Regions from separate parts of the Homo sapiens genome. Here regions 2, 3 and 4 are each linked to region 1. The links come from fine-mapping of genetic effects on gene expression. A gene starts in region 1. Each other region holds a variant in brackets. All regions are shown on one strand. Distances are between the middles of the regions.

Region 1 (2,695 bases):
TATATGGTTAATGATAATGAAAATAACCGTTTTGATTGAGGCATAGCTGATAAAGAACTATATATAGAAAACAGATTAATTTGCTTAAGTACACTTTTGAACTGGGATAATCGGCCCATTTCATCAGAGAGAAGAAGATATGATTATCTTCCTACTTGCTGTGGTAAATTGGTCTGTGTATAGTTCACCTAAACACAGTACCTTTCAGTTTTAATTTCAAATATGCTTATAGATCATATGTAGATCATACGATAACTCTAGTTTAACCCTCTGATACAAACTGCCAACTATTTCCAAATTTTAATCTAGTTATTTTATATTAAAACGGAAGGGAGTTGTTAAAAGGCACTTTTTTATAAGGGTATGTATGATGGCAAATAAAACAGACATCGCCTCTGCCCTTGGAACTTACAGTCCAGTGGAGACAGACAAAAAGGAAATTCACAAATGAATTTATTGTAACAAATTATGCTAATTAGAAAGAAAAATCACTGAGACAATGAAAAAGACCAACAAGGGAGCCTACTTAGCATGGTCAAGGAAGGCCACTCACATTACAGGTTGAAGGCGTGTGTGACTGTCTCTTTCCTGAGATAGAAAGAAAACCTGGAAGAGTTTTTGGAACTAAAAGGCCAGTGAAGCTGGAGAGTTTTAGGGGGAAAAGGGGAAGAGGGAATAAGATCAAATAGAGGAGGCAGGAGGAGCCACATCGATCAGAGCTTTTGAAATGCAACAGGAAACTACTGTAGAATTTTAAGCAAAGGCATGGTAGATCAAATTAAAAGATTACACTGGCTGCTGTGTGAAAACTTGGGGATGAGGAGTAGAATGGGCCAAGAATGAAAGCACCGTTGTCAGGATAGTTGTAATTACACTGAGAACAGATAAGAAAAGGAATATTTGAACGAGAATGGTAATTCTGATTGCAGTGGGAAGCATCCTTTCAATTTAGAAACCAACCTAAAGGAAATTTACACAAGGTAAACTCTATGAACTTGATATTAAGCGAAATAACCTAAACTATCAAGTGAACTAACTATTCGTGGCAATTCCTGCTACCCAAATAACTTCCAACAGTATCTTGCTGTTTACTTGGGCTACGTTTTAAATTAAACAACATGCTTACTTGGGCTAAATTTTCGCCCACTTCAAATATCTTCTAATACGCAGGCGAACTACTCAGATCAAAGACAAAGAAAGGATAAACGGCAGGTGAACGAGATGACGAGAAGGGAATGCTGCAGAGTGAGTGGTCCCGAAGATCCAGCCAGTCTCCAGAAAAAAGTACTTGTAAGCAGCCTCATTCAGATGAAAGAAAGAAGGAAAAGTTCAACCGCCGAATTTCTTACTTATATTCTTCCTCCAAGGCGAGGAGGTCGGGTCCAGGTGTAGAGGGTTGCTGAACGGGTGGCGGGAACGGAGTCCCTGGAACGCTGCTTCTCTGTAAAAGAGCCACAGACTTTCAGACCCGAAGTTAAAGGAAGTTAGGCGTCCTAGTCGCCGGAACCCAGACGCTCCCCAGGAGCCTGGAGTTGAACTGACCGTGAGACACAGACTTCGCCCCGCCATCTTCGGCGACTGCGACGCGGTTACCGAGGCAACGACGCATCTTCCCGCGAGAGTTTCCACATCCCGGTTGCCTCCCGCCCGGGCGCCTACGCCTTCCCACTCTCAGGTTCTGTGCTGCGAGCGGCGCGAGCCTCTGGCAGCGGGCTCGGCCTTTGCTCGCAGCACTCGGCGCTGTCCCAGGAACCCAGGAAGGCTTCCTAACTGCAAATTCGACTTAGTTAGTGCAAATTCTCAACTTGTGGGGGTTGAAAGAGTTTCAGCCAAAACAGGCAGGTCCTTTGCCGCTACTCTATAGAAAGCAAGCTGGTGAGGCAATCCCTCCCTGTTGTGCTTTTCAAACCGTTAGTGGCTAATCCGACCTTCACCCCGTTTGCTTAAAGTGAGCTCTTCAGTGGAATTCAGAAGTTTTGATTTCTAATTTTTGTTTACAGCATGCATGGCTAAGACTCAGGCTCTCAAGTTAGTCAACCTAAATTATTATCCTGGCACTGCCACTTACCAGTTATATGGCCTTGGGCAAATCACTCTGTATATCGGCCACTTCATTTGTCAAATGGAAGTGAGAATAGTGCCCACTTCACAGTTATTATGAGAAGCAAATGAATTCGTGCTTAGGATCATGCCTGAAACACGTAAGCGGTTAACAATTTCAATTGTTTTGGAATAAAATTGACATCCAAAAATAAACCGTGATATGATGTATGGTCATCTGATCTTTAGAAAGGGTGCAAGACCATTCAATGGGAAAATAATTGTCTTCAACAGATGGGGAGACAACTGGATATCCAAATGCAATTAGACCCTTAACTTCACACCATATACAAAAATTAAAATGTATCAAAGACCTAAACTTAGGAGCTAAAACTCTAAAGCTCTTCAAAGAAACTGTTGGTGTAAATCTTTATGACCTTGAATTACAATTCTGAGAATCCTTGATGGATTCTTAGATATGACACCAAAAGCAGTAGCAAAAAAAAAAAAAAAGAAAAGAAAAAAGAGGCTGGGCACAGAGGCTCATGCCTGTAATCCAAGCACTTTGGGAGGCCAAGGCGGGTGGATCACCTGAGGTTGGGAGTTCAAGACCAGCCTGACCAATATGGAGAAACCCCGCCACTCCTAAAAAAAA
Region 2 (2,695 bases), 58 kb before region 1:
AAGGGAGACCATCAAGTGGGCCAATATGTATATCAGTGTAATCTTAGATAGAAAAGGAGACAAGTAACTTATTTGAAGAATAGCTGAAAAATTGCCAAATTTAAGGAAAGAAATGGATACACAAATACAAAAAGCTCCATGAACTCCAAGTAGGATAAACCCAGAGACCCACAGCAAGACACATTTTAATCAGTCGAGTGTCAGACAAAGAGAAAATCTTGACAGCAACAAGACAAAATGGCTCATCACATGCAAGGGAGCATCTGTAAGATTATCAGCAGATTTTTCAGCAGAAACTTTACAGGCCAGAAGTCAGTAGGATGATATATTTAAAGGGCTGAAAGAAAAAAACCTAGAAGAATACTACATCCAGCAAAGTGTCCTTCAAAAATGAAAAAGAAATTAAGACATTCCTAGATAAGAGCTGAGGAACTTCATTACCACTGTATTTTCCCTACAAAATCCTAAAGAAAATCCTTCAAGTTGAAACAAAAGGATACTAGACAATAATTCAAAGCTATATGCAAATATGAAATTCCCCAGTAAATGTAAATATTTGGACAAATATAAAGGCCTGTATTATTTTAATTTTGGTTGACAACTCACTTTTCATTCTTTCACTTTTCATTCTTTTCGAATTTAAAAGACAAAAGCATAAAAAATACTATAAATCTTTGTTAATGGGTACATAACCTAAAGATGTAATTTGTGACACCAGTAACACAAGGTAGGGCAGGGGCTGAAAAGGAGTAGAGTCTTTATATACGATTGAAGTTGCATCATTACACAAAATCAACTAAACAATAAGGCAATAAGGAAGGAAATGAGAGGGTAAAAGTCCTCAAGACATACATAAAATTGTGAACAAACAGCAACAGACCTCCCAAAAACTTTAAATGTAAATGGACAAAACTCCCTAACCAAAATAAATTGAATGGAAGAATGGATTTTTAAAAACCAAAATCCAACTATATGCTGTCTACATGCAACTAACTTTAGATCCAGAGATATGCATAGGTTTAAGGTAAAAAGATGGAAAAAGATAATCTGAAATTTTGTAACCAAAAGAACACAGGAGTGACTACAGTAATATCTGACAAAATAGACTTTAAGTCAAAACTGTTAAAACATACCAAGAAGGACATTATATAAGAACATATGGGCCAAACAAAAGGGCCAGTTCAGCAAGAAGATAGATACAATTATATATGTACCAAACATTAAAGTGCCTAAATATATGAAGCAAGCATTGACAGACTTGGAGAAAAGACTACTCTATAGTAAAAGTAGACTTCAATACCCCACTTCCAATAATCAATAGAATCACCGGATGGAAGACCAATAAAGCAATAAGGGACTTGAACAACATTATAGACCAATTAGATTTAAGAGACATAAAGAGTAGTCCTCTAACACAAAGGCATAAGAAGGATATAATGGACTCTAGGGA[C/T]TTGTGGGGGAAGGGTGAGAGGGATAAAAGACTACACATTGGGTTCAGTATAGACTGCTCGGGTGATGGGTGCACCAAAATCTCAGAAATCACCACTAAAGCACTTATCTGTGTAACCAACACCACCTGTTCCCCCAAAACGATTGAAATAATAAAGAAAAAATATAATCATATACCAGAACAGACAAATATGGAGAGACAGGAAGTAGATTAGTGGTTGCCTAGGGCTAGAATGTGGTGCAGGGTGTTGGGGGAATATAGAGTGGCTGTGAATGGGTACAGACGTTCTTTTTGGGGTGATAAAATTGCAAAATTGATTGTGGTGATGGTTGCACAACTTTGTGACTACTAAAAACAAACTTATTTGTATATTTTAAGTGGGTTGCATGGTATATGAATTGTATCTCAATAAGATGTTAACGAAAAAAATAAGAGAATACAGTTTTCTCAAGTGCACATGGAACATTCCCCACATTTTATAAGTCATACAAAGTATATTTTCCAATCACAGTTGATTCAAACTAGAAATCAACAGCGGACGGAAAACTGGAAAATCCACAAATATGTGGGGATTGAACAAAACACTCAAACTACCAAGGGGTCAAAGAAGAAATCACAAAGCAAATTGGAAAATATCATGAGGCAAATGACAACAAAGCTACAATACACCAAAACTTATAGGACAGAGTATAAGCACTGCTAAGAGGGAAATTTGTAGTTGTAAATGCTTACATTAGGAAAGAAGATTTCAAATCAACCTGACTTTACACATCAAGGAACTAGCATTTCACTTTTCTCTAGGAGACATTGATATCTGTATACCCTTGTTCAAAGCAGTGCAACTCATACTAGCCAAAAGGTTGGGAAGCAGCTCAACTGTCCACTGATGGATGAATAAACAAAATGTGGTATGTAAATACAATGATTATTAAGCCTTAAAAAGGAATGAAATTCTGACACATGCTACAACTTTGATCAACCTTGAGAACATTATGTTAAGTGAAATAAGCCAGTTAAAGAAAAACAAATATGGTATAATTCTACTGACGTTTACTTCCTAGAGCAGTCAAATTTATAGAGACAGAAAGTACAATGGTGGTTGCCAGGGTCTAGAGGGAGGTGGAAATGGGGAGTGGCTTAATTGGTAGAGAGTTTCAGTTTTTGCAAGATGAAAAGAGTTCATGGATAGGTTGTATAACAGTGTGAATCTATGTTACACTACTGAACTATATGCTTAAAATGTTT
Region 3 (2,695 bases), 110 kb after region 1:
TATCTATGACTGTTTTCACACTACAACAGCAGAGCTGAGTGGTTGCAACAGAGTCTATATGGAACACAAAACTGAAAATATTTACTATCTGGTCTTTTACAGAAAACATTTGCCAACGTCTAATCTAGATTTTAATTTTATGCTATTAATTTTAAATATATGTCATATTTAGACAAATCATCTCTTTTCTCTCCACTGATTCTTGAATGCTTCACCTTCATCTTTCTTGGATTCATCATTTATTTTGTTAAAATTTATCCTATAGTCATCCTTTCAAAGAGATTCTATTGGTGATACATATGTCCTGAGTTTATTTCAAAAATCATGTTTTTAAATTTCTGGGATCATTGTTTCATTTTCATGGATGTAATATCTTGAACCTCTTTGAGGATAATTGTTATATTTGTGATATTTATAAGTATATATTTTATATACAATAATTATATTTTCTTAAAATTATAAAATTTATAAAAAGAATTTGTATTCATCTTTTTTAAATTTATAAACTCTCTTTCGTTAGGTATTATTTTTTCTGAGTTTGGTGTCTCTGCAAACTTGTATTATTCTTGTATTGGATTATTCTTTTACTTTATAAATAAGAATCCCTGTTAGCTCTCTCCTTCTGCTTGATGTGGGTCAACTTGTGATTATAGGTGAAGGGAAGGGCATATTGCTGGGGAGAGTGTTTCTTTTCAGAGTGAGGAGCCTCCCTGTGCCTCCTGGGGTCCACTGCTACTCTTCTGTCTGTTGGCTCTCAGAATCCACAGGCTCACTACTTAATCTGTGGACAATTACAAGCAAAAGAAGGGAATGTGAGTAGCAGTCCAGCTGCTCCAAATGCAGTGTTTCAGTTAATCACTCTGGCCATTACCCTAGGATGTCCTATTCATAGAACCTGTTCTCTCTGAGCTTGTAGCATCCCTGAAATTTATCCTACCTCCTCAGCAATCTAGAGCCAAATGTACGGCACAGTTGCTCTAGTATGTTTTTCTAAAGTCTGATCCCATCTCCTGAAAATTTCTCATACACTTACGGCATTTTTCTTGTCCCCTGTCCTGTTACCAATTAACCTCACCCCCTTTAATCTTTTCTGTCATTTCATAAGATTTGGTAGAGGTAACTTTCCTGCAGGCTGGCATCTTGATTTACTCTTCATACACAGGATTTTTGAATTAACTCTTTCAAAACACCATTAAAT[G/A]TAATTTGTGGGTGATAACCTATGTTCTTGCCATTTTTATTTCAAAACATTTAAAAAGATACTCAAAGTTTCTTTGACACAGAGAGAAAAGTGAAGCCCTATTCCAACAATTCTCTGAGGGGCAAGTCTCAAGTCACTTGCCTTTAACAACACATTGGGTAGTCTATTCCATTTTTTTTTAATGTTCTTTCATGGGAGTGGGAGACACTGATTGTGAAGAGCTGTAATTTTTAGCCACTTTTTCCACCTTATACATTGGGCAGCGATAAGTGACATTTTCAGTCAGATTTGGCTAACAAGCTCATCCTGTTATGGAATTCTACTCCCTCCCTGCCATACCTCAATTCCTGACTGCTGAGTAGCCTGTTCAGAGTACATCAAGAGCTAACTTTAACAGCTTTAATACTCACTAAGAGAACCCTTCTGAGAGTAGCTAGAAAGCACAGACCCTCATCTCTAATATTATTTGGGGTTTTGAGTCCCTGAATAGCTAGTGTCATTTGGCTTTCTTTAGGGACCTCAGAAGGGATACGTGTTTAAAGTTCCTATAAATATTGTGTAAGATTTTCCAACTGATTATGAAGACCTTCCGTTCTTTCTCCTTTTTCAGTTCTGGGGTTGATATTTGGAGGGGGTTAAAGTCAGACACCTCTGTACACTCCCAGGACTCTCTGACATAGCATGTGTTGAACCTCTCCTTGTTTTATGATTTTTGGGGTTTTTTTGCTTGGTGTAGGCAAAATTTTTTCTTCTTGCCATCCAATGGTGCCTCTTTCCCTATCTGCTTTGTGCATTTCAAACACGCAGAGTTTGAATGTCCTTCTGTGCTCTGATCAAGGAATTTCTTGCAGCAGCTATCTTAGGTGCCGTGTGGCTTTTAGTGATCATGACCTGTGCTTTATCAGACTATAAAGTAGTGGCATGTAAAAACTAGGCTGCCACCACTTTTGGTTTTCAGGACTCCTGTCATTTTTAGGGCCCTTATCCCCTGCCATCAATCTATTCCTTCCCTTCTCCTCTCTACCTTCCAGAAAAAAAGGAAGGGAAATTCATAATTTATTTGGCTTTTACTATGTGTAAAGCATTGTGTGGAGTATTTTCAGAAATATTTTTCATTAAATTATCAGTACAACTGAGTGAAGGAGTTATTATCCCCACTTTTACCAATTGGAAAACTGAGGCTCAGAGAAGCAAAGAACTTGCCTGAGATCACAAAAATGGCAAGTGGTAGAGCTGAGATTTGGATCCTAGACTCTAAATTTGGAAGCCCGGGGGATCTCCATGAGGGTCAGCCTCAAGCCTCATCTGCCCAAGAGTGTGGATCTGAATTCAGATAAGAAACTAGAGGTTACAGGAAGCACGCAGCAGACTCTTTTCCTTAAAAGGAACAAAGCTGGCCAGAGTACCTTTAAATCTGGAGAATTGTAGCACCAGATGTCAGGCTGAACAGACACAGTTGGCTGCTTGAAAAATTTTTGTAAAGTCATGGAGACATGA
Region 4 (2,695 bases), 99 kb after region 1:
GGGCAAAAACTGGAAGCATTCCCTTTGAAAACTGGCACAAGATAGGGATTCCCTCTCTTACCACTCTTACTCAACATAGTGTTGGAAGTTTTGGCCAGGGCAACCAGGCAAGAGAAAGAAATAAAGGGTATTCAATTAGGAAAAGAGGAAGTCAAATTGTCCCTGTTTGCAGATGACATGATTGTATATTTAGAAAATCCCATCATCTCAGCCCAAAATCTCCTTAAGCTGATAAGCAATTTCAGCAAAGTCTCAGGATACAAAATCATTGTGCAAAAATCACAAGCATTCCTATACACCAATAACAGACAAACAGAGAGCCAAATCATGAGTGAACTCCCATTCACAATTGCTACAAAGAGAATAAAATACCTACGAATCCAACTTACAAGGGATGTGAAGGACCTCTTCAAGGAGAACTACAAACCACTGCTCAATGAAATAAAAGAGGAAACAAATGGAAGAACATTTCATGCTCACAGACAGGAAGAATCAATATCGTGAAAATGGCCATACTGTTTAAGGTAATTTATAGATTCAATGCCATCCCCATCAAGCTACCAATGACTTTCTTCATAGAATTGGAAAAAACTACTTTAAAGTTCATATGGAACCAAAAAAGAGCCCACATTGCCAAGACAATCCTAAGCAAAAAGAACAAAGCTGGAGGCATCACGCTACCTGACTTCAAACTATACTACAACCCTACAGTAAACAAAACAGCATGGTACTGGTACCAAAACAGAGATAGAGATCAATGAAACAGAACAGAGCCCTCAGAAATAACACCACACATCTACAACCATCTGAACTTTGACAAACCTGACAAAAACAAGAAATGGGGAAAGGATTCCCTATTTAATAAATGGTATTAGGAAAACTGGCTAGCCATATGCAGAAAGCTGAAACTGGATCCCTTCCTTACACGTTATACGAAAATTAATTCAAGATGGATTAAAGACTTAAATGTTAGACTTAAAACTATACAATCCCTAGAAGAAAACCTAGGCAATACCATTCAGGACATAGGCATGGGCAAGGACTTCATGACTAAAACACCAAAAGCAATGGCAAGAAAATCCAAAATAGACAAATGGGATCTAATTAAACTAAAGAGCTTCTGCACAGCAAAAGAAACTACCATCAGAGTGAACAGGCAACCTACAGAATGGGAGAAAATTTTTGCAATCTATTCATCTGACAAAGGGCTAATATCCAGAATCCACAAAGAACTTAAACAAATTTACAGGAAGAAAATCAAACAACCCCATCAAAAACTGGGCAAAGGACATGAACAGACACTTTTCAAAAGAAGACATTTATACAGTGAACAGACACATGAAAAAATCCTCATCATCACTGGCCATCAGAGAAATGCAAATCAAAACCACAATGAGATACCATCTCACACCAGTTAGAATGGCAATCATTAAAAAGTCAGGAAACAACAGGTGCTGGAGAGGATGTGGAGAAATAGGGACACTTTTACACTGTTGGTGGGACTGTAAACTAGTTCAACCATTATGGA[C/A]GACTGTGTGGCAATTCCTCAAGGATCTAGAACTAGAAATACCATCTGACCCAGCCATCCATTACTGGGTATATACCCAAAGGATTATAAATCATGCTGCTATAAAGACATATGCACACGTATGTTTATTGCAGCACTATTCACAATAGCAAAGACTTGGAACCAACCCAAATGTCCATCAATGATAGGCAGGATTAAGAAAATATGGCACACATACACCATGGAATACTATGCAACCATAAAAAAGGATGACTTCATGTCCTTTGTAGCGACATGGATGAAGCTGGAAACCATCATTCTGAGCAAAGTATCACAAGGACAGAAAACCAAACACTGCGTGTTCTCACTCATAGGTGGGAATTGAACAATGAGAACACTTGGACACAGGGCAGGGAATATCACACACCGGGGCCTGTCATTGGGTGGGGGGGATGGGGGACGGATAGCATTAGGAAAAATACCTAAAGTAAACAACGAGTTAGTGAGTGTAGCAAACCAACACGGCACATGTATACATATGTAAGAAACCTGCACATAGTGCACATGTACCCTAGAACTTAAAGTACTAAAAAAAAAAAAAGAAAAGAAACCCCATCTCTACTAAAAATACAAAATTAGCCAGGCATGGTGGTGCACACCTGTAGTCCCAGCTACTTGGGAGGCTGAGGCAGGAGAATTGCTTAAACCCAGGCAGTGGAGGTTGCAGTAAGCCAAGACTGCACCACTGCACTCCAGCCTGGGAGACAGAGTGAGACTCTGTCTCAAAAAAAAAAGAGAGAAATTACATAATGACAAGCAACCAATTCACCAAGAATATACAAAAAAATGCATAATAATCACACATCTAACAAAAGATTTGCAGAATATAGGAAGTAAAATCTGACAGAATAAAAGGTATTAGATAAGTCCAAAATTATGGTTGGTGGCTCAGAGCACCCAAGAACTGTGGTATCATATCAAAAGGTCTTTTGAATCAACACTTTTCTCACTGTAATCAATAAAGCAGTAGGAATGAAAATCAGTAAAGGATTAAAAAGCCTGAACAATACCATCAACCACCTTGACCCAACTGATATTCATATAATAGGCCACCCACACAAGAGAATATTCTTTTCCAAAAATATGAAACCTTCACCAAGATAGACGATATTCTGGGCCTTAAAACAA

Alleles and levels. Alleles are on the strand shown, and positions count from the first base shown. SD is a standard deviation of normalised expression in the study named.
As copies of T replace C in region 2, the expression in minor salivary gland of the gene that starts at base 1,594 in region 1 goes up (small effect, 0.34 SD a copy in GTEx).
In carriers of allele G in region 3, the expression in testis of the gene that starts at base 1,594 in region 1 tends to be lower than with A alone (small effect, 0.20 SD a copy in GTEx).
In carriers of allele A in region 4, the expression in unexposed skin of the gene that starts at base 1,594 in region 1 tends to be higher than with C alone (small effect, 0.33 SD a copy in GTEx).

Evidence for each region.
Region 2: its variant is fine-mapped to the expression of TEX9 in minor salivary gland (GTEx, PIP 0.91).
Region 3: its variant is fine-mapped to the expression of TEX9 in testis (GTEx, PIP 0.99).
Region 4: its variant is fine-mapped to the expression of TEX9 in unexposed skin (GTEx, PIP 0.96).

Annotation. Positions count from the first base shown.
Region 1 is chr15:56,364,325-56,367,019 of GRCh38, reverse strand. It overlaps TEX9 (testis expressed 9), which reads right to left and starts at 1,594. Exons shown (of 12, transcript NM_001395496.1): 1 at 1,543-1,594; 2 at 1,350-1,441. The coding sequence starts at 1,569. RefSeq lists enhancers at 1,301-1,350, 1,891-1,940, 1,951-2,130.
Region 2 is chr15:56,422,688-56,425,382 of GRCh38, reverse strand. All of the region lies in intron 10 of TEX9 (testis expressed 9), which reads right to left. Among named protein-coding and RNA genes, the nearest start is that of MNS1, 41 kb to the left of the region's middle. The variant C/T (reference allele first, on the strand shown) is at 1,451.
Region 3 is chr15:56,252,518-56,255,212 of GRCh38, reverse strand. It overlaps a transcript of TEX9 not described here. Among named protein-coding and RNA genes, the nearest start is that of RFX7, 10 kb to the right of the region's middle. The variant G/A (reference allele first, on the strand shown) is at 1,199.
Region 4 is chr15:56,265,741-56,268,435 of GRCh38, reverse strand. It overlaps a transcript of TEX9 not described here. Among named protein-coding and RNA genes, the nearest start is that of RFX7, 23 kb to the right of the region's middle. The variant C/A (reference allele first, on the strand shown) is at 1,529.